Homo sapiens: one gene and its partners. The protein of the gene in region 4 interacts with the protein of the main gene of each other region in a pairwise test. Each region holds a gene or a part of one and is shown on either strand. Other genes may lie near its edges.

What was found.
Region 1: the proteins of FAM168A (region 4) and ALKBH4 interact in binary tests that used the Homo sapiens proteins (3 or more experiments, as listed by UniProt).
Region 2: the proteins of FAM168A (region 4) and MEIS2 interact in binary tests that used the Homo sapiens proteins (3 or more experiments, as listed by UniProt).
Region 3: the proteins of FAM168A (region 4) and C1orf94 interact in binary tests that used the Homo sapiens proteins (3 or more experiments, as listed by UniProt).

The regions. Positions count from the first base shown.
Region 1 is NC_000007.14:102,455,277-102,462,250, forward strand, and holds the end of ALKBH4 (alpha-ketoglutarate-dependent dioxygenase alkB homolog 4), read right to left. Parts: intron 4,526-6,974; coding exon 4,328-4,525; intron 2,706-4,327; coding exon 2,118-2,705; 3' UTR 962-2,117; downstream 1-961. UniProt on the Homo sapiens protein: Dioxygenase that mediates demethylation of actin monomethylated at 'Lys-84' (K84me1), thereby acting as a regulator of actomyosin-processes.
Region 2 is NC_000015.10:37,034,036-37,041,883, forward strand, and holds part of MEIS2 (homeobox protein Meis2), read right to left. Parts: intron 2,925-7,848; coding exon 2,779-2,924; intron 1-2,778. UniProt on the Homo sapiens protein: Involved in transcriptional regulation. Binds to HOX or PBX proteins to form dimers, or to a DNA-bound dimer of PBX and HOX proteins and thought to have a role in stabilization of the homeoprotein-DNA complex.
Region 3 is NC_000001.11:34,193,531-34,201,378, reverse strand, and holds part of C1orf94 (uncharacterized protein C1orf94), read right to left. Parts: intron 4,155-7,848; coding exon 3,466-4,154; intron 608-3,465; coding exon 347-607; intron 1-346.
Region 4 is NC_000011.10:73,399,166-73,406,139, forward strand, and holds the end of FAM168A (protein FAM168A), read right to left. Parts: 3' UTR 1,322-6,974; downstream 1-1,321.

The DNA of each region.
Region 1 (6,974 bases), on a different chromosome or scaffold from region 4:
AGGCTGTGGCAGAAGCATCCTGGCGTGGCCTTCTCCAGCCCCATCCTGGTTGGGTAAGGTGTCGCCGTGGGTCTTCGTGTCACAGCTTCAAGGACAGACCCAACTCTGGTATCACAAACTTAACAGGTAATGGAGTTTCCTAAAGTGTGCTCTGCAGGAGTGCTGGAAGGGCCAGCATGGAAGGACCCCAGGGAGGGAGATTTCTTTGCTCCACAGCATCCCCAAGCCTCACGAGGCCTCTCCCCTCCAAGTCTCTATGTGCATCGTTCTCCAGATGTTGGAGCATCCTGCAGGGGCCAGCCCAGCCTGTCAGGGGCAGAGACCCTGCACTGGCCCCCTCGAGAGTGGACCCCTGGGCTGGCTTATCTGCTCCAGTGCAGTGAGGATCAGCTGGAGCTCCGACCTGACTCACATCTGGATGCGCAGTGAGGGGCCCGTTGGGGCCGTGATACTGGGAGGAAGCCGGGCTCTGTGCTCTTGCTCCAAGTGAGTTGACCAGGGAGCCGAAGTTAAGGTGGCCTGGGAGCCACGTCCTCCCACCTAGCGGCTGGGCTCTCACAGCCACTAGAAACCCATCAGCCTTTCCCCTGGGTCTATGCGGGGCTCTTCAGCCCTCCTGGGAGCTCAGTGGCTGGGATGCTGCTTTACAGACAGTGCACGGCTCTGCCATCTGACAGCTCCCAGAGGGTTCTGGGGGTGACTGTAAAGAGTGGTGCTGGCCCCGAACCTTTCCTGTTCCCCTGGATTTAGTTCCCAGCAGGTGGTGAGGAACTGAACATTTTGTCCCATAGTGGTGGGAGAGAGGGCTGGCCACATGGGTCCAGGCCACCCCCTCAGCCTCCACAGCCTGCCCCGCACCCAGCCACAGGAACAGCAGAGCAGCTCCCCCATCCAGGTAAGCGCCCCCACCACAGCCCCATCACAAAGGAATAGCCTCCTGGTGTAGTGGGAGGTGAGGAGCTTTTTTTGTTTTCCTTTTATTTATTTTAGGGACAGGGTCTTGCTCTGTTGCCAAGTTAAGTGCAGTGGTATGATCATGAGCTCACTGCAGCCTTGACATGGTGGTAAAGCCATCCTCCCGCCTCAGCCTTTCGAGTAGCTGGGACTACAGGTGTGTGCCACCATGCCCAGACGCCCAGCTAATGTTTGTATTTTTTGTAGAGATGGGGGTCTCACTATGTTGCCCAGGCTGGCCTCAAGCAATCCTCCCACCTGAGCCCCGCAAAGTACTCGGATTACAGGTGTGAGTCACCGCGCCTGGCCGGGAGCTTTAATTTTTCCTACTTGTTAACAGCGTTATGGGGCTGGAAGGAGGCTCTCAGATTTCCCTGCCCTCCTCACATCCCCCAACCCTCCCTGGGCGTGGGGGTGTCAAGCATGAGTCAGGCTGAGCCTGACTCTGAAGCTGTTCCCAGCTCTTTAGTCTAAACTTCAAATCTTCAACCCTGTTCCCTAATCCAACACATTCCCCAAATGAAGGGACTGGACAGTGAGATATCGGGAAACCCCATGAAAATAGATGCATAATAAAGGTGAAAATCATTTAAAATGTTCCCATTTTTTTTTTTTTTCAAAACAGTCTTGCTCTGTCACCGAGGCTGGAGTGCAGTGGCGTGATCTTGGCTCACTGCAACCTCCGCCTCCCAGGTTCAAGCAATTCTCCCACCTTAGCCTCCCGAGTAGCTGGGATTACGGCTGTGAGTCACCACACCCGGCTAATTTTTGTAGTTTTTGTAGAGACGGGTTTTCACCGTGTTGGCCAGGCTGGTCTCGAACTCCTGGCATCAAGTGATCCGCCCACCTCAGCCTCCCAAAGTGTTAGGATTACAGGTGTGAGCCACTGTGCCCGGCCCCCAGTATTTTTTAAGCTCAAATGATCCCATGTCCCCAAGACTGTGACAAACTAAATAACCAAAAAAGTGTGGCCACGGTCCAGGTGGAAGGGGGCTGCCTGGAGGTACGTTCCCATCAAAACCTGCTCCTGGGCAGGGCTCACACTGCTCACAGCATCAGGGGTCAGCCATCTTCTCTTGAAACCCCGTGAGTTGCAGGAGGCCCTGTTCTGTGCTCCTCATTTCAATCCCGGGATCAGTCAAGTCTGGAGCCAAGGAGGCGGTTCACACGGGTCTTCCCTGGAAGGAGAGGGCGATCCGCAGCAGTTCCTGGCCCAGCTCTTGCTGCCTCCCTCCAGGGCCAAACTCAGCCGACAGCTCCCGGAAAGTGACGCAGACGCGGCGGGCCTCGATGTGTCTGCGGTGGATGGCATGCTTCCACTGGTGCCGTGCCGCCCCGGTGAGGACCAGCAGGGAGCGGGCGGGTAAGGGGATGGCCACCTCCACCTCCTGGCATAGCACCGACCGGCTGGGTGCTATCACGCTGTCCACCAAGGCCTCCGGGGCAGCCGACGGGGCCGAGCAGAGGAGCAGGCTCCCGGGCGCCTCCCGACACATGGACAGCACGGTGGGGGACAGGAGGTTGAGGCTGACCAGCCGCTCCCCCCACAGCCAGGCGTCGTCCAGGTGGGGGTCAATGGCAGAGCCCCGCTCGGGGCAGTAGTCCAGGTTGCACTGCTCGACGGGCCGGAAGCCCTCCAGCCCCGGGTAGAGGCCCATCCTCCGCACCACCTCCCGGCTGAAGCTGGGGAGGCCGCAGAAGCCCTCGGTCTTTAGCTTCTGTTTCCGAAAGTTGACTTTGGGGCCATAGTCCTGAAGGATGAAGACAAAGAGGACATGAGGTGTCTGAGTTTACGAAGATGTCTACCACAGACTAGGTGGGAAGAATTCAGTCATAGTGACCCAGGCAAGCAAAAGCCCCCTGGCTTCATGGAGGTGAAGCAGGAGGAGGCAGACTCAAGGAGACAGAAGTGACAGCAAATGGCCGGGCATGGTGGTGCATGCCTGTAATCCCAGCGCTTTGGAAGGCTGAGGCGGAGGGAGCTCTTGAGGCCAGGAGTTTGAGACCAGTCTGGGCAACAAAGTGAGACCTCCTCTCTACAAGAAATTTAAAAATTAGGCTGGGCATGGTGGCTCACGCCTATCATCCTAACACTTTGGGAGGCCCAGGCAGGTGGATCGTTTGAGCCCAGGAGTTCCAGACCAGCCTGGGCAACACAGCAAAACTCTGTCTCTAGTAACAAAACAAAAATTAGACAGATGTGGTGGCACAGGCCTTAGTTCCAGCTACTTAGGAGGCTGAGGTGAGAGGACTGTTGGAGCTCAGGAGGTTGAGGCTGCGGTGAGTGGAGACTGAGCCACCGTACTCCAGCTTGGGAGACAGAATGAGACACCCTGTCTCAAAATAATAATAATAATAATTATCTGGGCTTGGTGGCACATGCCTTAGTTTCAGCTACTCAGGAGGCTGAGGTAGGAGGATCGCTAGAGCCTGGGGGGTCAAGGCTGCGGTGAGCCAATATCACATATTGCACTCCAGTCTGGGCGACAGAGCGAGACCCTGTCTCAAAAAAAAAAAAAAAACCTGTACACAAATGTTCACAACAGCCAAAAAGTGACAACAACGCCAATGTCCATCGACAGATGAATGAGGAAATGAAATGTACCAACATCCAACAGGATGTCACAAAAGAATGGGGCTGGGCGCGGTGGCTCACGCCTGTAATCCCAGCACTTTGGGAGGCTGAGGCGGGCGGATCACTTGTCAGGAGTTCGAGACCAGCCTGGTCAACATGGTGAAACCCCGTCTCCACTAACAGTACAAGAATTAGCTGGGCATGGTGGTGGGCACCTGTAGTCCCAGCTACTTGGGAGGCTGAGCCAGAAGAATGGCTTGAACCCGGGAAGCAGAGGTTGCAGTGAGTTCAGGTCATGCCACTGTACTCCAGCCTGGGTGGCAGAGCGAGACTCTGTCTCAAAAAAAAAAAAAAAAAAAACCTACAATGAAGGGAGAGGGGGCACCCGGGGATGTTTGGACACAGGTGGGGAAGGAGTTGGAGGGAGCGGCGGGCCCGGGGAGGGGGAAGGTGGGAATGCGTGTGAGGAGACAGGACACGGATGGTGACAATGGGAGGTGGGGGCGCCTGCAGCTTGGGAGAATGGGGTGCCTTCACCACCACCAAGCCAGCTACAGAGGGGCAGAGAGCCCAGGAGCGCATATCACAGGGAGATGGGGTGCCCAGGTGCACCTCTGCCCATCGGACACACGTCCTGCAGCGAGTCTGGCTGCCCACAGCCCCAAGGTCTGGGGAACTCGCCCACTACCAACCCTGGAGGTTTGAGGGGTGTGGCTGCAAGGAGGGGGATGGCCCCCAGCAGTAGGGCTGTCTCCTCAGCGCAGCCCAGCAACCCCCATGAGCTCAGGGCCGGTCTACCTGCTTCCTCCGTCCAGACTGGGAGAGCTTCCAGGGGTCACGGTCCATGAGCCGCACCAACTCGGCTTCTTCCTCCCGGGTCACAAAGTCCTCGATCAGCATCACTCCTGGGAAGGGGAAGGCCCAGCCCTCAAAGTCAGACTCCTCTGTGCCCACGGCCCAGCCGGTGTCGGAGCAGTAAATGAAACGGTATGTTTTCTGCAAAAGAAACACAAGTCCACAGGCTGGGCAACACAGCGAGACCCGGTCCCTACGAAAAGTTAAAACAGGCCAGGTGCGGTGGCTCACGCCTGTAATTCCAGCACTTTGGGAGGCCGAGGTGGGTGGATCACCTGAGGTCAGGAGTTCAAGACCAGCCTGGCCAACATGGTGAAACCCCATCTCTACTAAAAATACAAAAATTAGCCAGGCATGGTGGCAGGTGCCTGTAATCCCAGCTACTCAGGAGGCTGAAGCTGGAGAATTGCTTAAACCCAGAAGGCAGAGGTTGCAGTGAGCCAAGATGGCACCACTGCACTCCAGCCTGGGCGACAGAGTGAGACTCAAAAAAAAAAAAAAAGTTTAAATAAAAATTAGCCGGGTGTGGCAGAGCGCACTTGTCATTTCAGCTACTCAGGAGGCTGAGGCGGGAGGATCATTTGAGCCCAGGAGGTTGAGGCTACAGTGAGCCATGGTCGCGCTACTGCACTCCAGCCTGGACAACAAAGCAAGACCCTGTCTCAAAAAAAAAAAAAGAAAAAAAAAAAAGGAAAGACACATCCTGGAGCCATGGCAGCCCCTGGCACTTGTGTGCCCTCAGGAGACCCTCTGATGGCTCATTCCTCCCCTCAGGACACTGTGGAAGGCAGCTGGAGTCTAGGGGGAGGTGCAGGCAGAGCCTCTGCCCCAGGCTGACCGGGGAAGGCCCGCAGCCCTCTTGAGCTAACACGAATTTGATTGGTTTCCTTTCTCACTTTCCTCCCCTGTAAAAGAGAAGGGTTTGTACAACATGTTTTTCCTTCTCCATTTTACAAAGGAGGCTCAGCAAAGTTAAGGAACCAGCCCGAGGCTGGACAGCACCTCCTGCACTCCCATCTCCTCAGCTGCTTCCAGGAGGCCCCAAACTGCCTGACTACCTTGAATCTGTGCACCCTAATCTCTTTAGGTCTTTGCTGATGCCACCCCGGTGTCCCAGGGGTTGGCCCGTGCCTATCACCAGCGTGAGGGTCACCTAGGAGGGCAGCCAACTTCCCTACAGAGCTGAGCGTTCAGTTGAGCTCCTCAGTGTCCCAACCTCCCTTCTCCTCACTCTTGTCCTCAGGGCACCTTTCCAGACCCAGCATCACCCCTCAATCCTCATACCCTGGGCTGTCACTCAACTCCCACCCCATGTCCCTCTCTGCTCTGCCACCAACCCCGAGGCCTGGCGGTACTCTAAGGGTTCCCCCATGCTAAAGAAAGTCTAGAAACCAGGCCAGGCACGGTGGCTCACACCTGTAATCCCAACACTTTGGGAGGCCAAGGTGGACTGATCACCTGGGGTCAGGAGTTCAAGACCAGCCTGGCCAACATGGCAAAACCCCGTCTCTATTAAAAATACAAAAACTAGCCGGGCGTCGTGGTGCATGCCTGTAATCCCAGCTACTCAGGTGGCTGAGGCAGGAGAATCCCTTGAACCCGGGAGGTGGAGATTGCAGTGAGCCAAGATCGTGCTAGTGGACACCAGCCTGGGTGACACAGTGAGACCCCATCTTGAAAATAATAATAATACTTTTTGTTTGTTTGTTTGTTTGTTTGAGATGGAGTCTCGCTCTGTCACCAGAACTGGAGTGCAGTGGCACGATCTCGGCTCACTGCAACCTCTACCTCCTGGGTTCAAGCGATTCTCCTGCCTCAACCTCCCGAGTAGCTGGGACTACAGGTGCGCGCCACCATGCCCAGCTAATTTTTTTCTTGTATTTTAGTAGAGACGAGGTTTCACCATGTTGACCAGGATGGTCTTGAACTCCTGACCTTGTGATCCTCCCGCCTTGGCCTCCCAAAGTGCTGGGATTACAGGCGTGAACCACCATGCCCAGCCAATAGTAAATTTTTAAAAAAGAGTTTCGCCAATGAAATAGCCAGTATTTGCATCTGTGGCACTGAACATTTTACATGGATTATCTAGTTTCATCCCCAGGACAGCCCCAAGAGGAAGGTACCATAACTATCATGGGCAGGAGGTGTGGAGGTTCTGGCCGGAGTCACCCAGTGAGGACTTCGGAGGCCACCAGAACTCAGCCCTGGGCTCTGTGGCCTGTCTCCTCTTCCTCTTCCATCTCCAGGCTCCTCACACCCTGGGCTGCCACTCACTGTGGGCCGCTGTCTTTCTCTGTTCTTCCCTCCAGGGACCTCAGCCCCTTCCAATGCTTTACTTCCAGCCACCGACTCCAGCTCAGACCCCTCCTGAGATTGGCACTATCTCCTCCTGCTCCTGGGGCCCTCCCACGGGAAACATTAAAACTGGGAGTCCCCCGTGTGTCGGCTGAGCAGGCTGGACTTGTCCGAAAGGCCATGGAGCGCTCTTGAAGGGTTTTAAAGGAGTGACGAGGTCAAATGTGAATTTTAGAAAGATCTGGAGGGGGGAGGGGCAGATATGAAGGGTGGAGGCTGGAAAGCCAGTGAGGAA
Region 2 (7,848 bases), on a different chromosome or scaffold from region 4:
CTAGTGGGAGAAAGTAATGAAAGGGGCATGTTGTGAAGAAGGTCAGGAGAGAAATAAAGCAGTTAGTGAAAAGCAAAAGCAAAGAGAAAGGGGGAAAGAGAGGAAAGAATGACCCATGAGGCTGGGACCGGGCATTGCTCTGACTAAATGTCCTTGAGCAGAACCAAAACCTAGGAGCATGGGAAAGGAGCTTATCCATCCTGCAACGTGTCCCTCTCATTTGAAAAATGGGGAAACAGAAAGTCCAGGGAACTTAATGGACTTAACTGAGGTTCAGCCAGTACAGAGGATCACAGAGCATGAATGCAGACTTCCCAACTCCCCCAGCTTAGGCTATTTGAGTCCTCTCTCCCAACCTGGAGGACAGGCAGTCATTAAAAATTTGAGTCGGACAGAGAATTCTGCACAAAGCCTTGCATACATTCAACTAGATGAAAGCATTCTTGAGGTGACTACAAGCTCTTACTGTTAGTTCGTAGCACAGCAGAGGTACAACAAGTGCCCAGAAATCACCAGCCACCCACAACTCTAATCGGTGGCCATGGTGCATGCTGGGTGCCGCCCTGGGCAGGGAGGTGGGAGATAAGGTATTAAGGGCTCCTGACACTCCCATGTGAGATTCAACTCACAAAATACAGGTGGTAAGGCTTTCTATATTGGGTAACACGGAGCTTTCAAAACAAGAAAAGAAAACAGCACTTGGCTTCTCCGTATTTCTCCCTTGTGACTCTGAGCGTATTGATGGTGGAGACTGTGAGATTTCTATGCAACTGTTAAAGGTGATCGTCATTTTGGCAAAGTCATTGTAATGTGGAAAAATCACAGAGTTGGGGACTTGGAAGTCTCGGGCCCTTGTCTCAGCTTGACCTTCAGCTAGTAACTTCCCTTTTTGGGTCTCTGTTTCCTCATCTATAAACAGAGCAGCTGCATTCTCTAAGGTTCTACTGTTCTCTGACATTGGTTTTGATGACAGAGAGGTTGAAAACACACGTAGCTGTTTGCTTGGAAAGCAGCTGTTGAAGTGTTTATTTTCGACCAAGAAAGACCAAGCATGGAGGAGGACAGAGGGAGGGAACCAAACAGGTGAGCTGGTCAGGAGAAGGCAGCTGGCCTGTCATCCGCAGCTACACTGCCGTTCTTAGTTGCTACTCTAACCAAACAAACCTTCATTTAAAAATGAGAAACCCCTCCCCTCACAGTCACTCGACTTCCAAATTAAAAACATTTTACAGGTTAGTAAATCTCCAGCTGAGGTGATGTAGCAAAGAACAGCTGTGAAGTAATTTTGATAATGATGAGAATAATAACCACATGGCAAGGTTCAGGGCTTTGCTGTTGCAGCTTCAGTGCTCCTGAATAGATAAAAGTGATTAAATACTCCTGATTATCCCTGACCAATATGTAATGGATTTACAGCCCTTTCAATTAGTCAGTATTTGCTTAGGACTCATTATTTTGTCTTTGGTTAAGTAATCAGTCCAGAGACCGCATGTTCTGTCTAATTCCTCTGAGCCGAGTCAGTGCAGGGCCCTGACCTTTGAAATGGCCATAGCTGCAAGGCAAGAATAACCACTACCACAGCTGCCTCATTGGTTCTCCCAGCTAATCCTGACACCACAGGCCAGATCGATACACCTTAGTTTGCTACTAATGTCCTTACATCAAAATGGCCGATTTAGGAATGTGAATCTATCACTTTTCCCTCCCCACCACTGCTCCACCCCTTGCCCTTTGTAGCTCTGCAAGAAGAGCCCATCAGCAGCCACCACCATAAATAAAAGTGGAACCTTGTCCTGGACCCATGACACTGTAACTAATGTCATTCAGCATGGCAACACACAAGTTGGATAATCAAAGAAGACCTTCAGCTTTCAATGTGCTACTCTATTTTTAAGTATTAGCCTAAATAGAATGGCCTGAAAACAATATTATAGCAAGAAGCAACCTCTGAAATTTTTACTGGTTTCCCAGAATTTCCAAATGAACAGTAAAATATAAGCATGCCTAGTTTATCTGTAAAAATATATTGTAATTTTTTTGTCATAAGAGTCTTAGAGTCAACAGTATGTATCCACACATACAAGGATTGCAAACAGGAAGATAAAGATAAATTGTTACTTTTAAAATGTCTCACATAGTAAAACCGTTTCCAGAAGTGAACATGGTTAGCTTTTAAGATAATGGACTTGAGCAGCTAAAAAAAGAATCTTTAATGTCCACCTTGCAAACAAAGGCATTACAGCACCTATAACCCTTCTGAATTTGTCATATAAATACATGACATATTTGTAAACTGCTTCAGCAATTAAAGCTGCACCTGATATTGTGAGCTTGGACATGCATGTGGCAAGGTGCTTTTTTTTTTTTTTTTTTGGCCTCCTAGAGGAGACAGCTTTCGTTAACAGTGTAATCAGCAACGTTTATGGATTTGTGAGCTCCTTACAGCCATTTCCCTTGGTTGCTGTTGCAGTATCCGAAGTTGCTCTCATACTTTTAGCATAAATAACAAATTTACTTATATATGCTGTTTAGGGTCTTAGATCATTTTAAATAAAGTCCATTCCCAGCTTCTTAAAACAAAAACCTGCTACTTTCTAGAGGGTGCTCTTTGGATGGTAATAGTTGATGAAAAAAAAAACTTTAACTAGTCTGTTAGTCATCAGATTTCAAGAATAAGAAAATAGGCACCTTAGTTTAAAAAAAAATCAGTATGAGACCGTATAACTTGCTAGCAAAACAACAAAAACTATTTTTTTTTTCTCTTTCATCTTGACTTACTGTGAGATGCTGGAAGAGCCATGCTCTCATGATATTTGTTGCTACTTTGGGGAAAATGCCTCTTTTCTTCTGGCGTTTTTTGTCCTTATCCGGATCATCATCGTCACCTGTACCAGGTGAAGCTACACTGTTGTCTAAACCATCCCCTAGTAGAAAGAAATAAAAATACATTAGAGAAAACATCGCAAGGTGCCAACAACAAGTGCAGCTAATGATGAGCTCAGCTAAGCTTGTTGAAAGAAATCCATTAAGCGAGTATATTCTCTTTCATTAAAGTATAATTGGAGACACAAATATGTAAAAGACAAAATTAAACCAGGCCTCTTCAAATGTTAATTTTGTGTGTCTCACACTTGCCCATATCATTAATTCAATTATAACTGTGCACTTGACACAGTGCAGTAGCTCTTTGTCAATTATGGAATCCAATGTGGGAAAACCGCCATCAGAAAACCTATTCAGTGGAAACGCATCCCCATGCCCAGAGTGAACACATACTGTAGGGTAATCAAGTTAAATGTTCTGTAGTCTATATATTCTAGGCTGCCTGCATAGGTGACAGTAACTGTGTCACTGTTCGTTGCACATAACGCACTGCCTGCTCAGCCCCTCCTAGAGCTGTCACCTCCTAAGCACGCACATTCGCACACTTCTCATATGACCCTGCACTCGGCATTTGCATGACATGAAAACTTTTAGCTCTCTGCACCACTGATCATTATCATGAAAAAAAAAAAGATACACATCAAGGTAGGGTGCTCACTTAATCAGAAGTTTCTATCAACATCTTTCTCTTCTGTGCTTTTCTCTGGCATTAATTGTGCATTAGCAAAAATCATTTACTTTTAACAGTCATAGTTATTTTTTCTTGCCCTCTGGCAAAAATGCCTTGAAAGCCTGCCTGGAGGGCATCTAAATTATGTATCTGAAAAACTCTTCTGGCAAGGCATTGCAGGACCCCTACTTTCTTAAAATTCATACGAGCACGTCTTCCTGTTTTTGGGAAGGCATCAATCAAGAGCAGCAATATATGCCATATCCCTACATTAATATTTGAACTAATAACTTTAAAAAAAGGAAAGAAACAAGATCCGACTTGTGGCATAATCAAATGCAAAATAAATGAAGAATACGGGGACAGCACTGGGGCTTTATAGATGGCTGTGTTTTCCTTGCACATCATTAGCCTGGAGCCACACGAAAGAGGAAAACAGAGAAGTGGAGAGTTTATGCTCCCTGCTGGTGTTTAAGAAGCCAGGGTCCTGGAAGGACATCTGGGAATTGCACTGAGATGGGGGTTTTTGTAATTTAAGAATAGACATTCATTAGCAGTAAATGCCATAAATCCCATGCTAAGTAAAAACCTTGTCCAAGAAAGCCTAAAACAATAAACTCTGTGCTCAATGTAGCCTGAGCTGGATGCTCTGTAGCTTTCTGAGGAATACTAGAGATCCATCAGCTCATTCCCAGACCTGCTCCCTCCTCTCGGACTATGCTACAGCACAGCCATCCTGCCCACTGGGCCACTTGCCTTCTAACTTCTGGGTCTGCTCTGTGGGCTTCCCTGTACCTGTTCTTTTCCTTTCTTGCCAAAAAACCCTCAACTTTCTTTGACTAGAGAAGCAGAAAAGCCACAGCAAAGAGCTGGCAGATTAATTTTATTGACATTTCCATTTTCACTGCAATGCGATACCCTCCATCACATGGAAGAGATGACCCTCACTATTTACAGACTGACAGGCCACTTCATTACAACCACCCTGCCCCAAGGCAAAGCAGCTCCCTTCCATCTGCCCAAACACTAGAGCATGACCCCGAAGTTGCTGTTCTCTTTTTCTTTGCCTTCTGTTATGATAAGAAAAAAGGGACCCCATATAGTCAAAGACCGAATCAGTATACAGTGAAACAAAAGGCATTTGACTCTTTCAATACTGGATAATATACAGTCTAGTTTTCATCTGTCACCCTCCCTGCACACCCATGTACACCGGAGTGTCGCCTGGACAAGGAGACACACACACATACACGCACACCCAAGCTCGTGCAGGGACACGTGCACACGCTTTCCACCATGCCAAGGAACTGCTGCAAGGCAAATTCTCACCCACACTAATGGCTTCTGACTGCTCCTTGGCAACCCTAGCATTTTAACCTGGGTGGATGTGCTCTCCAAAATACAGACACTGGAGCGATCTCATCAGCTGTTCATGTGACACAGATGGAGAGTGGCTATTAGGAGCCAGGCAGTGGGCCTTGGGGATCTGAGGTGCTGTTCTGTAGCCTGAGGCAATTTTGAAAAGCAGTACCCGGAGATGAGGAAAAAAAATCCACACTGCAAGTGCAAGTTTGAAGTCAGTCAGTCTGTCTGTCTACCTACCATGGATAAAGATATCTTTGTGTGTAATATGAAATCTATGTAGGCTATCTGAATGTACATTTCAGATAATGTATGTATGGAATAACTCTTCCTTCAGTGTCTTCCAAATATAAAAACACACTCTGTAAACAATGCCTGTGTGTATATATTTCTTTCTAAGCACATATGGTTTCTGTGTATATGTTTAAGCTGAAATTGTCAGGATTTTGTTAAAATCTCATTTAGCTTTTTTTGATAGATTTTTGAATGCACTTATTTTAAAAGGTTAATGGCTTAATTGAAGGAAGTTCAATGAAAAAAGTCATTTGCCTTTTTAACCCAATCAATGACCTTAAAAATGAGAGACAGCATTTCCACAGTGCATCTTTTCTTTCTTAAAAGCAAAGAGGGCTGGTAACACCTTCGAACTTTATGATTCACTATATTTAGTGCAAGAAAAAATATAGCTAGATTGAGCATCCTTTGATGACTGACTTAAACTGGAGAAGACAGGAGCATCACATAAATTTTAATATAAAGCAACCCGTTGTATATAAATGTAAAATATTTGAATTTAGATCCAGTGTAACAAATAATTATAAACAATAATGTGTCTAGTTTTGTATTAATGACTACATACTAGACACAAAATTTTAAACTAATATATGTTTATACCTCTATAAAAAGAGGAATTTTCCTCTCCCAAACACAACAATAAATACAATTGTTTTTTCCTCCAATGGACTGTGGACCAAATCCAGCACAGAGAACTAACAACAGCATAACGAAAATTTTTGAAAGACAACTGCGTGAACTGCAACCTAAAATAAAATTTTGCAGCTGATGCTAGAGTTAGTAACTCAACATGGATATTGGTGTTTTTTTTTTTTTGTTTTAAGGCTGTGTATGTGTGTGTGTGTGTGTGTGGTTGTGTGTATAAGATAGTTGGCAATCCTTGGCACATGTGCCAAATGAGTTTATGTGCTGAAAAAGGTATGTATACCAGCACAAATGCACGTGCCAAATGAGGTAAGGAGATAGCATCTGAAGTTAGGATTCAAAATTGTGGAATCCTTGCGGGCAGTTAACTGTTTCTTGCTTATCTTTTGATTATGAGAAGATACCTCCATGCCTGACTCAGAACACATAACCAGTGATTGTTGGTTGGGTGAGTAAATGACTGAACTTATCAATGAGCTTATGCAAGGGCCCTCCCCACTTTTTGCCAACCCCCACGGTGGGGCAACTGCACACACTATATACCTAAAGGGTGAAGGTCTTGTTCCTCTGGAACAGCTGAGTGGGTTACGTATGTGCACACAGTAACTTCTAAACATGCCAGGAACAGAGCTTCTTTGAAGAGCTGAGTACCCACAGGGCTTTTTTGCAGAGCTAAACCAAAGGCCATTCCATCAGCATTGCCACCTCTGATGATGAAAGGCTATATAAAGAAATACTGGGCATGCTTCTTTTGAAAGGTTGCTAATCCCTTGACCAAGGGCATAGTCTAAGTTTTGGGTAAACATACTCAAAATAAATGTGCATTAGTGAAACATATTGTGTGTGACCATGGAAAGGAAGACTCAAGGCCTGTGGACAGATAAATCGGAAGTGGATTAAATGATCAGAGGAGATTGTTAAAAACACAGGTCCCCAGGCCTCATCCCAGACCTACTGATTCAAAATGTCCTAGGGCGGGAAAAAGGAATTTGTAATTTCAACAATTCCTTGGGTTTGCTTATGCAATCAGAGTATCACTGATGCTTTAACTGGCTTTGGGAAGCCACTGACTAGATTATCTAAATTGAAATGAGATGCAGCCTCAGGAACAGGTAGGTAATTAAAATCCTACTTTACTCCCATGAATGAGGTTAGCAGCCACAGTGAGTAACTGCAATCTGGCCTGGGCCTTATTCACTGTGGGAAAGCCATGGTGTTCTAAATCCCCATCCTAGTCTTCTGGTAGTAAGGGTTAAACAGAAAGAAAGAAGCTATAGAACATTGGCTCTGTGCATTGGCACTAGCTAAAAAATTGTGAGAAATGCAAATTCTCAGTCTTAGCTGAGACCTACTGAATCTGAAACTCTAGGTGTGGGGCCCTGTTAATCATCCCTGCAGGTGGGTCTGATGCCCACTCTAGCTCGAGAACCACTGCCATAAAGCACAGAGAACATCCCCTTGGTTTGCTGTCCTCCTTTGTTGCTGTCTGAAGGCCTGAATCTAATCCCTGGGTCCTCCTTCTGTCTTAAGACTCTGAAGCATTTTGAGAGCATCTCTAGCTGGATTTACACCTATGCTCTCAAGGAAGTCACGCATGCTTTCCTTAGCTGAGCAGATTATGCTCAGAACACAACATTGCTCTGGTAGGTAGCTCCAGCATACACCTACTTAAAAGAGCAATAATGAGAGTGTCTAACTGCAGGAAGCTAAATCCTGGGATACCATCGGCATCTGGGTGTAGGCAAATATCCATATCCATAGTTGTGTATCCACTGAATCAAGGAAGGACGTCGGCACACTATGAGAGGATCCTCAGATGATTGATTCTAAATTCTAGTTCTAGAATTGATTCTAAATTCTAAGTTCTAGACCAGGCTTAATAGTTAAATATGTTCATACAAAATATATGTGCACCTGGGATTACAAAAAGATTTAAAAAAAGCTTAAAAAAAAGAAAAGAAAATTCTCATTCATAAAATTCATGGTCATAAAAA
Region 3 (7,848 bases), on a different chromosome or scaffold from region 4:
AAGCGGGAACATAATCTCAATATAGAAATAATCTAAAGCAAGGATCTTTTGTTTTGGCTTGGGCAATTTGAGAGGATATAATACATGCTGGGTCAGGGCTATATTCAGAAGTGACCATTAATAATGCTGACGTGACCCTTGAAAGCCAACTACACTTCTCTAGCAACTGTATTCCCAACAAGGGATATGGGGAGAAAGTCATTGCCCCCATTTTATGGGTTTAAAAACTGACACCTCTAGAAAGGCAGTAGATAAGACAGCCACTTGGTGACAGAGCCACCCTGAAGCCTGTGAGGGTCACTGCAACCCCCTCCCCTCCAATCCCTCCCTGGGTAGGTCAGCTCACATTTCAGCTCCGGCCCATCCACTTCCACTTTGTTTCGAAGTCTCGGCTGCCCGCTTGGGTTCTTGGTGGCCCCAAGGAACTCATAGAGCAAGTTCTTCTCGGCTGGACATGTAGGTTTCTTGGGCGGCAGGGTCAGTGATGCGGTGCCCACTGCGTCACAGCAACCCTCCTCACCACAGGCGTCCTTCTGGCTCTGGGGCCACTGGCTGAGAAAGAGGCTCCCTTGACCCTTTTTTGGCTCCTTGGTGCCAGGGCTCCATTCTGTAGCAGGAAAGAAACTGAGTCAATGCCTCTGGAAGGCCAAGTGCTGGATGCTGGAAGCACCTTTTTGTGGACTAAATGATGAATCCTCTGCAGCACACACCTGAGGCTTGGACCACTTTGGGGGACTCTCTTTCAGCCAAATACAATCCCAATCTCTCCCTGAAACCCTCCCTGGCCCCTGCCCCCCGATCTCATGCATCCATCAATCCATCCATCTGTTCATTCATCCACCCATCTGTCCATCATCTTTGCCTTTCTTCCTTCTATCCGTCTACTTATCCATCCATCCATCTGTCCATCCATTTGTCTGACTATCCATCTTTATCTTCCTGCCTTCCTTCCATCCATCCACCCCTTCATCCTTCCTTCCATCATTCCTTTATTCGAATTACCTTTCTTTTCTTTCCTCTCCTTCCTTACTTTTCCTCATTCCTTCCACTATTCCTTCTCTCCAACCATCCATAGTGCCAGGCTGCGAAAACAAGGATGTTGTGGACACAGTTCCTGCCTTCAGTGAGCACATGGCTTAGTGAAGGAGTCACACATTCTTACAGAACATGTGGTCTGAGCCACACACTTTGGTCTCTCATTCTGGATTCTACTTTTGTTTTATTACTCACAGGTGATTCAGCTCACTTGTCAGTGCCAGGCCTTGACCTGAGTGCTGGGGACACAGTTGTGAGTCAGAGCTAGACTGTGCCCTGCAGGAGCTCATAACAAGAAAAAAAGAGAGACATGCCCAGAAATAGCCCCAGGATAAGGTAGATGAACACCATGAGGTGGCAGAGGGAAGAAATGGAGAACAGGGTGGCTGAGGCTGCTTCTGTCTGAGAAGGTTCCTTCCAGAAGGAAGTAGGGTTGCAGCGAGGCCTTACATCCAGGGGTATTGGGGAGGAAGGCATGGCAGGCAGGGATAACTGTGGGCAAAGGCCTGGAAGCATCAAGGAGACATTGTGAGTCACTGGATATGGCTAGAGTGTGGAGCAGGGACAAGATTGGTGGCAGACACAGGTTTCTCACTAAAGAGACTGAGCATTTATTCTCCCAATGCAGACATACTTTGGGGACCATCACAGGATCCTCCACAGCAGTGGTGGGAAACCTGGCCACCCACCAGATGGCTGTGCACTGTGCTGCCCAATAGCAGGCACCGGGATCTGTCTGGATGCAGCCAGAAAGGACCTGTGCCTCAGTGTTACCTGTTGATAATAATAGACCAGATCCCACCAGCTTTTGGCCCCCTAGCCCAGCGGCTTGGGGGCTGAGCTTCGGGGCTAAGGCTGTCTTCCTAGCACTATTCCAGCAAAGGAAAGAGCTGCTCTAGCCTGAGCCAATTTAGAAGGAAACAACATTTTTAGCAAAACATCCCTAGAGTCTTTTCCAGGAGTTCCTCCGGTTGCCGAATTCAGCCCCTAGCCTGTGAGCTGAAATAACAGTACCCACTGATAATAGCCCTTTCCCCAGAGACACACACACCTGCAGCTTCCCACTCATATTTACAGATGCCTTAAACATCTACGAAGCTCCCTCGTCCCAGGTCTGGGCACACAGACATAGACACACTCCTATCTGTTGTTCCTTTGACTTAGTTACACATACACAAGTACATACATGACAGACATATGCACAAATGTGTACACAGACATGCTTAGACACACCACTCTTGCATTTTCTCTAACAAATACACTAAAACCTTCAAAACTCCTTTTGGCACACTTTTGCTCACACATTCGTACACACAGACATGCACCAATGGTGGGTGGGGTGGGTGGGACCAGAACTGCCTCCAGTCCAGCAGCCCCATCCAACAGGGAAATATCTATGGGTCCCTTCTGGAGAAGAGGTAGGAGGAAGGTCTCCTCTCTGGGAAGAGCTCAACCGTCTCTCTCCTACAGCTCCCCATCCTAAAGCCCTCTGGCTCCTAGAAGCCTGTCCAGGACCCAGAGTTCAGCTTGCTATCCACAGCTCTGATTCCTTGGCCTTCCTGCAATGCTCCAGGACACAGAATGTTCAGGATGACTTTGCTCTTATTTTCTCAGGTAGATTAATTTGGACCCTCCCAATACGGGTGTCTCTCAGTTATCCATCCATGCTCATAGCCCAGAGGAAATTGTTCTTTTGGCTAACATGAGTATGATCACTCTCTTAGTGACTGCTGACTCTAGGCAATGGCCATGGCCATCAGCCTACCTTCTTGGAACCATATAGTCTGACTGGTTAGATCAGAACAACACACAGAATCCTGGGCATAAAGTAGGAGAAGCTTGGGAGGTGGCTGGCTTTCCTGGGAAGAATGTGAGCTCCTCAATAAAGTAAGTCCCAGGAAACAGATCCCAGAGTCAACAGTCTGCACTATGCCTGGATAATTTACGCATCTACCCAATACCCCAGAGAGGGAGGACCAGGCCTCATGTCCTCAAGGTACCTCCATGAGATAGATGCCAAATGACCCCAGCTACCAATCAAATTTCTCTTCTATACATCTTGGCATCTCCATGCTGTAGTTTCACCCTGAACCCAGCTAGGGTAAACACTTCCTTCAATGTACTCTGGACACCCGTTTGATTCCAAAGTTAAGCCAATTACTACATGGCGCCTATTTCTCTTCTCAAAGTATGTTGAGATCAGGGCCTCTGGGTTTGCTTACAAAAGCTGTGCCCTGCACAGGGGAACCCAGCAAAATAAGCCTGTGGGGGCTGGAAACAGCCCGTCCCTCGGGGCTGTGCCCACCAGAGAGGCTGCTTTGTCTTGCTTTGCATGAAGATGCTTTATGTACATGCTGCAGCCCTGATTGGCTTCCTGGGAAGGACCTCCTCCTTGCAGGCCCACTCTACCCCAGTTCCAACCCCACTCACCCATCAAGTGGTGCCTCTCCACAGCAGGGTCAGCCTTGGGCTTGGAACAGATCTTGGCAAACACTGGGAGCTGCCTCTTCTGAGCAGGGAGCTCAGGGAGCTTGTCAGGACGTGCAGGAGGAGGTCGGGGAGGCAGCAGCAGAAATGGGCTCAGCCCTGTGGGCTCCTTGGGTCCAGGGCCACTGAACAGGTTGTCCTGTAGGAAGTCCTTGGTGACCCTTGTCTTGTCCAGCACATTCTTGTTGTCAGGGACCTTGGATGTCTCAGTGGACTTCAGTGGGAACTGGGACAGAAGCTTGCTGACTTGCAAGTTGGAGTCACCTAGGATGCGGCCCCTGTCCTCTGTCCCCTTGCTGCTCTTGACCTCGGCGGCACACAGAATGTCTGTGACAGTAGAAGTGGCAGAATCACAGTCCTGCCTGCTGCTGATAACGGGCATGGCCACCTTCTGCTTCAGAAGCTTGTCTCCGACAATGATGGAGGCTCTGGGGCGCTCATTACTGCCTGCCACTAGAGGAGGGGCAAGAATGCAGGGAGCCAGCTCTCTGGTCCCCTCGGGAGAGCTGCCGGGTACCTCCAGCTCCCCAGAACTCTCTTCGACCAGGATCGAGTGCTCTTTGGTGAGGCTTAGGAACTCCTGTTCCACCAACAAGGAGATCTCATCTTTGCCACTGCTGAGCTCCAGAGCTCTGGAAATGGGTCAGAGAGACAGACGGTGTTAGTGCCAGCTCACCAAGGCGTGGCTTTGCAGAAGGACATAGGCCCCAGAAAAGGGAGATGGATGCATAACATGACAAAAACACACTTCCAGGCAAGATAACCCAGCAGACACACTGGACCCCCAGAGGGTCCTATACCACAGCGGTAGGATGCAGCACTGAGAGCATGGTTTTGAAAAATGGGGAAACCTGGATCCTCTCCCAACAACCTTGCTGAGTGAGCTGGGGCAAGTCACAGCCTCACTGAGCCTTAATTCTAGTCCATTCCTCCTTGTTCTTCATGCTCAGAACCTGAAGCAATGAAAGACCAGAGAAGGGGTTCACTGGGGAATTTTGCCCAGCAGCAAAGGGGTCAGGAGCAAGCCAACAGCTCTAAGTGCAGAGTCTAGGGTGCTGGGGCTGAGCCCTGGGAAGCCCCCAGGAGAGTAGCGCAGCCCCCATCACCTCACTGCAGAATGGTGGAGTGGACAGCCTAAGCTTACACCCTGATCCAGTCAACTCCCATCGGTGTGACCCTGGGCAGGTTGTTCAGCATCTTGGTATTCTGTCTCCTCCTCTCATTACTAGGAGTATCATAGAGGTGCAAAGCACTTTGAATGGTGTCTGGCATAGAGTAAGGGCGATTCAAAGGTCAGCTCTCATGTTTACACCACTGTCAGCCTTAGTTGGTCCCCGCCCCTGGATCTCATACGGTAGCCTCTTGGATACTCATGTTCACTCTGGCATGGCCTCTGACCCGATCACAGCCTCTGGACTGGGCCTCCCTTCATGTACAGCACCAGCAGTGGGGAGATCCCTGCACTGATCCCTGCACTGATTCACCAGGATCTTCCTGAACCTAAATAATGGCCTCAACCTGCCCCTTGGACCCTGGGTCCTCCGCTGCACACTTGCTGGTCTGCACCTGTCTGATAGCACCTGATGGTCTCCTGGCTTTTAGGCTCCTCGTTGCCACTTCTCTCCAGGTGTAGAGAGGATTGCAATCCTACTGGCCTGGCTGGTGGCCCCGCCCACCTCACCAGCACTCTTGGCAAGCAGGCACCCAGGAGGACAAGAGCCACCAGCCTAGAACCATCTGCTGTGCCTACTCAAGGGGCTCCTATGAGAAGTGGATGAGGTGGCCCACACCAAGCATTCTGGAAACTACTCAGCCTTCTATCATGGGAGCGCTGAAGGAGAAGATGATGAAGACCCAAGGGAAAAAATCAAGGAGTCCCATAGGGGAGCTCAGCTGCTGTGGCTTAGGCTTTGCAGTCTGGAGGTCCAGCACAGGTTCCAGCTCTGGCCAGCCTCTCAGAGGGCATGATGAGTCTCCAAAACGGTGACCATGGAATGCTTCCAGCAGGGTCCATGCCTTCCTGGTAATGCTTATTGTGTACAAACGCACACACACACACACACACACACACACACACCCACGAACAGAAACAGGCAGGCACACAATTCACATGTCACCATACACAGACCCAGGGGAGTAGTCACTGCATTTAACAGTCAATCAGAATGGACACAGTCTACAGTCTTAGAGGCTTCCTATTGTGCCAGACAGGAAACCTTTAGTTGCTGGGTCCTGATGAGTCCTGAGGCAAAGACTTGGTAGCCCAGGGTGCTTGGGGACCCTGGGGAAGAGCTATGTACTAAAGACATGGGAATGTACCAATAGTCCAGCAGCCAAGACAGCCGTACTTCTTGAACATGAGCCTCTCTACCCCCACATGGAACATCACCAGGCTTGGAGGCAGAGAGTAAAGCCTGCAAAAAGCAGACTCCAGACAAACAGACCTGGGTTTGAATCCAGGCACCACTGCTCTTTTCATGTCGGACCCTGGAACCTCAGTGTCCTCCCCTGTAAAATGGGTGTGACACCTAACATCACCTGCCTCATGGGATGGTTGGGAGCATTGGGCGAGGTCACTGGTACGTGAGCTCAGCACAGTGCCCTGTGCACAGGAAACATTCAGTCAGTGTCAGCTGTGAGCATTAGCTAGTGTGGGCTGGTCCCGGCCAGCTCCTGAAGGGCCACTGGAGCTATGTGTGCAGCAAGATCACTTGCTGTTATTTTCTCTTTCCCTCCACTCTCTCTTCTGTCCCCTTTCCCTGACTTGTCACCTATTCCCTTCCTTTGCCTCCTTCCCATGTCTAGACTTAGGCCTATAAATAGGCCTCACTTTCCCGGCTGAGTCCCCTGAGAACAATCAGAATAAAGGGGCTGCCAATCTGCGGTCTCAAGTTTTAGATCCCCCTCCTCTTCTTCCTCTTCATCCACCTCAAAAGGAACAGGTGAGTCTCAAGTCACAGGAGTCAGACTAGTTTTTGCCTCCCCTCCCCAAATACTTTGCAAAGCAAGCCATACACCAATAGCTTCACTGAATTAGAAAGACACAGTACAATTAGGTCAATTTTTAAAAATTGTGATAATGGTATTGTGGTTATGCCTAACAACAACAAAGAGTCCTTATCTCTTAGCGATACATACTATTTACAGAGAAAATTATGCCGGGGAATGCCTTTAAAATTAATCCAGCAGGAGGAGGGAAAAGAAGAGAGAGGGAGTAATAGATGAAACAAGATTGGCCATATGTTAATCATTGCTAAAGCCAGGTAATGGTTACATAGGGTCATCACACACTAGTCATTCTATTTGTCTGTATTTGCTTTCTGCTTTATTTTATACAAATATTACACGCACATACTCAAAGTAGCTTCTAGAAGCCCCACAGGGCCCTGAGATCCCTGTACCAAAAATCACCCCATGATGGTCCCTTCTCAGCACCTGGGAGGTCACTCCTGCCCTCCCCAACCTGAAGCCAGGCTAGCAGACAGGAACTACCAGGGGCTGAGTGTGAATCCCTGCTCTGCCTCTCAAGAGCTGCCTTCTACACCTTGTATTCCTCATCTGTCAAGGTCAGACTGTGAGCATTCTATAAGTTGTACAAAACACTTAGCACAAGCTGGGTGCATAGTGGGCCCTCGAGAAATGCTCACAGCATAATTATTATAATGTAATTATCAATGTTTAGATCTTAGTTACGATGCACCCATATGTGCCTCTGCACAACTTTTCCTCACAGGCATCCAGAACAATGAAGAAAGCATCTTCCCCATTCATTCCCACACTGCAGCCTTTGTGGTGTTTAAGGAAACACTCATGTCCCCCCCAGCTGCAACCACCTCCTTGTCTCCATTCTGAACTCACGGTGGGTTTCAGGGGATATGGCCTCCAGAACCAACCCCTCCAGGCCATTCTCCTCTACATACCACAGGAATCAATGAGGCTCTTAGAAAGCTGGCATTGGTGTGTCAAGAACATATGGGCCCGCCCCAGCTGTGAGCCCTGCTACGTGCCCTTGAAAGGTTGCCGCAGGATATCCATTCTTCTCTTGCCAGCCTCTACAATTAATATTTCCCTTGCATTTGCCGTGAGCCTACTATGGGCCACACAGGAAGCCAGTCATCCATATATGTGTTCATATTTAATCCTACCCATATGCCTGGGCAGTAGCCTGGATCATCCCCACTTTACATATGGGAAGAATGACCCTGAAAGGCTAAGGGCCTTGCCACAGAGGGAAGAAGCTGATGTAGGGACTTGGCTGGGTCCAGCTGCCTCCACTAATTCCTCCCCACCCCCAGCCTGGGCTTCCTTTCAGGAGATTGTTATCCA
Region 4 (6,974 bases):
AGTTCAAGAGGCCCACGCGGAGGTGGGAGCTGGAGGACAGGGTGGGGTTCTGGGCTGACCACTGAGGGGAAGAGTTCTGAGCTTGACCTCTGTGCTCCACCCCTCTTCCCTATGGGCCAGAATGGTAGGGGCTGGGACCCAAGTCTCCACCTCCCCTCCTGCTCCTGGCCCTCAGCTCTGCCACTGTGACCTGGAGCTGAGCCTCCCTCTGGGAGAAAATCCCTTCCTGCACCGGAGAAACTGACTATGGTGACTCAGCCCCAACAATGCCTGTGGCCAGAGGTGCCCCCTCGGACACTGGGGGTGGGTTTCATATTGGATCAAGGACAGGAAGGGAGGCTGGGTGGAGGCACACGGTGAGATTTGGTGAGAGGCATTAGAGAGTAAGGAGGCCTAAAAGTTTTCATTTCAGCTGCAGTGTGAGCCAAGCTACTTGGCCTCTTTTGGCCTGTTTCCTTTCCAGGTGAGGAGGCTGAGTTCTTGGAGGTATAGCTATGGGGATGTGGAGCATGAACTGTAGGGGCCCGGCCCTGGGAAGGAATGGTGGACAGATAACCCAGTAAGAGAAGCCTGGGCCTGGGCTAGGGCAGTGGCTTCACCCAGAGGGGAGATAAGAGATTCAGATGATGTTTAGGAGGCAAAACTGATAGCACTTGATGGGACTGCTTTGGATGAAGGCGCCAGAGCCTCCCTCAGCTGTCCTTTTTCTGTAACCACAAACCACCAAGTGCCCCTTGGTTTCCCATCTGACAAATCCATCTTTTAAGAAAGCTCAGGGCGCTGGGTTCAGTGGCTCACACTTGTAATCCCAGCACTTTGGGAGGCTGAAGCAGGCAGATCGCTTGAGCCCAAGAGTTCAAGACCAGCTTGGGCAACATGGTGAAAGCCCGCCTCTACAAAAAAATACAAAAATTAGCTGGGAGTGGTGGTGTGCGCCTGTAGTCCCAGCTACTCAGGAGGCTAAGGTGGGAGGATCACTTGAGCCCAGGAGGTGGAGGTTGCAGTGAGCTGAGATTGCGCCACTGCACTCCAGCTGGGTGAGAGACTGTCTCAAAAACAAAAACAAACAAAAACAAAACAAAACAAACTCGGGCCTTGCTTGCTCTGAGATGGGCAGAACATGGGGCTTGGTGCGTGGGCTATGGAGCCAGAACAAGTGCCAAATGTGAGTTCTAACTCTGCCTCTCACCAGCTCTGTACCATCGGCCAAGGTACTTACCCTCCTCAGCTTCCCCATCTAAGATGGTGCTAACAACAGGGCTCACCTCACGTGTGCTGTGAGGACCGAATGCCTTAACAAACATGAGCAGCAGGCACCAGCCACACAATAGATGTCAGCTTTATTGCGCGGATGGCTCAATGGATTTCAACTCTGAATGGCCTCACTGTGCTCCCACATCACACACTTAGGGTGGGTGCTGAAGTTGCCACTTAAAGCTCCCCAGCAGCTGTGAGACCCTTAGGGCAGACCCCTGTCAGATCAGCTGTAAGATGTACCATAGGTTTTTCTTGACTACTGAGAACAAATTTAGCATCAACTTGGGGAGACGCCCAAGGGACTCACTGGCCCAGGACAGTCCTCTGTGCCTCCCTCCCCAAGAACCACTCAGTCTAGTCACCTAAGACTTTTTTTTGGGGGGGAATTTTTTTTTTTAATAGTTATTGAGTGTTCTACAGCTTACAGTAAATACCATAGTTACAAATTCTTGGCTTCAATCTTTCAGAGTGATCACTGTCTGATCTTCAAAACAAAACAAAAACCCAAAAGAATCCAAAACAACAAAACAAAACCAGATTTACACTTCATACACACAGGCAAGGCCATGGGGCTTTCCAATCTTTACACTCCGGACTGTGTTTTGAAAACACCTATAAATTCTTTGATCAAACTACTTGGAAGACACTGGTCAAAGGTTTATTATTATTATTATTATTATTATTATTATTTTAAATTTTATTTCTTTTTAAAATGTGAGTTCCAATAAAATTTAAAAATTAGATTCCAACCTGTAGATTAAAATGAATTAAAAAATACAAAATCATATACAACGCTCTCTTCACAGGGATGTTACATGCCATGAGAACAGGTTTCTCTGTCATGTGATATGAAACAGGGAAGCAGATGCCTTTAAGTCAGGATGGGGACAGGCCCTTGGGCCTTTCAAGATTATTACAGACAACTCCAAGTAGCTAGAGGCCTGGCCTTACCCCCCCTGGGTAAGGAGGAGCTTGAGTCACACCATAGATCCAGACTATCTGGCTGACCCGAGGAGAAGGTCTCTGGGACAGTCTCCTCTCTTTCCCTGACTCTCTTAGGCCTGAGGAGAAAGGCTGGGGTCTGGAGATGCTGGTCTTGCTGGGGTCAGGCCCAAAGCTGATCTCACCCATTTGATTCCTATGGGCCGGTACTTTGCAAAGCTGTTACATCTGTTCTCCTTAGGAAGGAAAATCCCCCTGCTATCAGTGGCTGGAATGGGTAGAGGACCTCTACCACAGCAAGGATATCCAGGGACTATCCATGTGGCCATAGGGAAGCAAGTGCTGTTTTGTCCCTTTCTAGCTTTGTGGCAGCCAGTCCCAACTCCTGTGTGCCTCGGTTGGCCTTTGGGTTGGACTCAACAGCATGCACCACAGAAGATATCCACTGGAGAGACTGAGGGACTGGGACCCAAGTCTGGCTTAGGCAGGGCTGGCCATGGAATGTTGAAGCTGGCCTGCCAGGAATTTTGAAGGCTGGGTCCTGGAACCATATAATGCCTAATTTCAGAAACGAGGAGTTTTCTAGGAAAGGGGCAGATAAGTAAAGGACAAACCCTGCAGCCCCCTTGGCATGCCTGCCTGTGCGCTCAGAGGCTCCGGTGTGGAATCCCATCAGTTAGTCTGGCGTGTTTCTTCAGCTCTGCGGGTGGGTCCCAACTGGCCCACTCTACTACTGCCCCTCTCTGGATTCCCAAGCTTGGCAAGCAGCGGGGGCCGCACAGCCAGTAGTGATGTGGGAGAATACAGGATGGAAAAGCAGACTTCCACGTATTTTCACTTAACTGCAATTGAGGAGGAATTCTGATACAGATGGTGATATATAAGACAAAGTTCACAGGGCCCAGAATGGGGCCCACCCCCTCTGGGCACAGAACAAAGCTGAGGAATTTGATATGGAAGCTCTGAGCCTCGCTTAGTCAGTGCCTCGCTGGGAACCTGGATGAGTCCTATCTGTATGAGGAGCCAAAACTTGGTGACCAAGGGGCCTGTCCTTTTATACTTCATGTGATTCCTTTCTGAAGGCCATCAGAACAAAGCAAGCCCTCCAAAGAAGGACCCCCAGATCTCTGGGAACGGGGTACCTCAAACTTGGAACAATTCGGGTGGCCAGGGGTAAGGATGCTCAGAGTCTGGTTCTGGTCCTCACCCATGGGAAAAGCAAGCCCAGGGACTTCAGTCTGTACGTTTTGTACCAACTCACTGGATCTGGACAGTGGGCAGGCTCTCAGGGATTAGGAAGCCAGGTGTGCAGGCTTACCAAGGACATGGGTCTCCCAATAGAAAGATGCCTCGTGCTGTCCTTGAACATGTCTTCGGTCCTGGGCATTGTGACCCCAAAGTGTTTTGTCCAAGTGAGGCCTTTAGTTGCAAATTCTCATCCTCCTTGTGCTGCCAGTTAGATGTGCCTCTGGGTCCCTCCCCAGGGCTCATTACAGGTCCTGGCCCAAAGCAGTTCATACAAATCTGCTCAGCTCAGAGACTGGGCTTCCCAGCTCTATAAAGTACAGTTAGCCCCTCCCTCCATGCTTGCCAAGAGACCCAGCAGGTGGCAGCAGAAAGAGCAGAGGATTTGAAGAATCACTTCCAAGCTGTGTGACCTTTTAGCAAGTCTCAAGCCTCCTGAGCCTTAGTTTTTTCATCTATAAAATGGAGGACTTTGGCAACCAATGTCAAAGTACTTTGCATACCAAAAACGCTCTGGACAGGTGTGTGTGTCTCTGCTAAATATTCAGGAAAGAGGATATACATTTTAGGGTCATTGCCAGGTAAGAAAGAACAGCAACTGTCCTATCTCATGAGGAAGAAATTAAATATGCATTTTTTTTCAAAACATGGCAAACCATTATGTTTCAGGCTTTCACTATTTGCAGGCAATCCAGCTCCCAGACTCAAACTTCTTGACCCCAGGCCAGTGAGGAGAGGGGGTCAGGTAGAAGTAGAAGAATTCAAAAGGGTTGGCTGGTAACGAGCCATCTGTACCCCTGATCCTGGCCATAGGTGTTGCACTTGGGGAGAGGCAGTGGCATGAGGAGGAGAGAGGGGTTTGCATCCTGGGGCCAGTGCTGTAGCTCACTGTCAGGCGGCTACATCCCTTGTCCTCTCTTGCTTGCCTGCCTTCAATGAGACGGCCCTTCCAGCTCTGACTTTTTGTCTAGCTTGACCACCGTGCCATCTAGAATCTTTGGAGGTATCTACCTATGGTACCTCCCACTAGATCTCTGTGACCTTACCAGTAACTGTGCCCATCCTACCAGAGGCACATGACTGTCCCCGCTCTCCTGGGCTCAGTCCTTTTGCAGTGACTCCCCAAGCTTGGCTAGGCTTGTGGATCTCCATCACAGCAAGAGGCTGAGGCCGGCTGAACTGGGGCTCATACTGAAAAAGGGGTGCTGGACCTGGGCTCTTCCAGACCACAGCCTTTCAGTGCCTTATTTTCACCTTGGGGCCCCCCTTTGCTCTTGAATTACATAGTAGGTGCTAAGATAGGGCACAGAGCACAGATGCTTCAGTACGTGAGCCTGTGTGGGGATCAGATGGAGGGGAACGAGACAGCAGACAGCCTGGGATTCGAGTGGCTCTGTCACTTATTAGCAAGTCACTTGACTTTTCCAAGCCTTGATTTCCTTATGGATCAAATAGGAGAAATAACCTCTATTTCATCGGGTTAAACCAGATAATTTATGTTCAACTGTTCTGTGAACTGTGAGGTCCAGCTGTTAGTTTTACTTACTGGTGTTGAAAGAACAAAAGTTACAAGGTCATTCCTAGGTCTCCTCTTCTTCCTTTCTCCTCTCTGTGGTTCCACCCCAGCCCACATGGAGGCAGCAGGGTTCTGGGAAGCCTAGCGGATACCAGCATGCTGCTCACTGTGGGCCTGTTCCCTTCCATAACCTGTTTCCTCATTTGTCAATTGACTGTAATAACTCTAACCCTGTCCCTCTCAGGGCGAGTACATGAAAGGCCGTGAAGTGCTTTGACCTCTGTGATGCACCTGACAAATCCAAAGGTTTCTATTATTATTATCATTATTATTATTTTGGCATTTTTCAAACACGTATGACATAATCTAGAACAACCTTCACCCACCTTTACAAAACCAAAGAGGGTGGAAGGAGGTATTTGCAAAAAGTGAATTAACACTGGAAAACTTTCTATTGTTTTAAAGTGAAACCTCATCAGCACCCAGAACAGATAATTTAGAACAGCTGAATTTTTTCTTACTGGTCCTAAAGTTCCTTGGAAGCCCAGGAAGGTGGGCCCCCAAACTCCTGGCTCTAGGCCAAGGAGGCTGATGGGCTTTACCCTCCTGGGAATGGCTAGACAGCTTCTGAGCTCCTTCCAACCCAAGGGTTTCCTGATTTTTCCCTCCCTTAGGGAGACATGGGAGGTTGGGGTAAGGATATGTCCAAGTTTGCATGAATTTTAAATGAAAGCAGTTTTTTAAAGTCCCAAATGTTGTCAATGATCCCATTTTTTACAATAAAATGTTCGTGCCCCACCCCCAGAGGGGCTGCTGGCCCAGCCAAGCGCTGGGTGCCGGAGGCTGCTGCTGGGCAATCCAGGCTCCTGGCTGAGACTAGCAGGGACCTCCTCGTCCCAGGGGTCCCTCTTCTCCCAGATGAGCCTGTCTCCTGGGCCTCATCCTCATTCTCCTCTCCTGATGACTCCCACTGTCTTCCTCCTCTTCCTCTCCTCTCGGGATGAGGGGCTACTGTCCTAAAAGCATGGCCTCTCCTTTTCGGCCAGTCCACCTGCTCCTTCTCCTGGAGGTGGAGTCAGGTACAGGACGGAAGTTCCAGATGTCTTCACAGAATTTCCAAATGCTATTTCTTCATTTGCAATTTCTGTTCCTGCCATCCGCCCCCATGTAGCCTCTGCCCAGTCTTCAACCCCCGCCTTTGGAGTCCGTGGAGGAAAAGAGCAGAAACAGGAGCCCAGAGACCATTCCAGACTCACCAGGTATGGGCGCTGCCGACTTAATTTTTACAAAACCAAGCCAATCCGTCCCTAGGTAAATTTTTGTAAGCAAGGTGCCCACTAGGTAGGAAGGCTGCATTTAATGCTAATTTACTGTAAGGTCTAGGGAAGTCCTTTCCGCTTCTCTGGGCCTCAGTTTCCTCATCTGCCAAATAGGGAAATGGATGAGATGATTGCTAAGGTCCCTTCAGTTCCATGAGTCTATGAAATGTTTATTGCTATTGCTTTTCCTTCACTATCCTCACCTTCAGAGCTGCCAGCACCCACCTGGAATGTGGTTCCTTCACTTGGGCCATGAATGGCACAGGTAACCAAGAGCTTGGCCTGCCTGCAAGCTCTATGGTCAGACAGGTGAGTCCTGGCACTGGGAAGGGCAAAAGAAAAGGGAGAGAAATGCCCTAGGTTCCCACTCCAATCAGGAGGAAGCTCCTCATCAGAGTGGGTCCATGACAGCTCAGAGGCTGAAGTCTGGATGACACAGGGCATCCGGCCTTCCAAGGCCTCGGGATGCTGGGATCCTACCACCCTGCAGCCGCTTGGCAGGTCTAAGGACAAAATCACCTTTTGAGGAAGTGCCAGGTCAGTTAACATCACTGTGCAAATCAGAAGGTCCAGGGCCAGATGCTTTGGCCAGAGACCTTTCAAACCAAAGCCATGAGGCAAGCACCGCTCCTCCCTTCTTCCCTCTCCTTCCCCACAATGCCCTCCCTCCCCCCACCCTCCCCCAAATTCTAAAG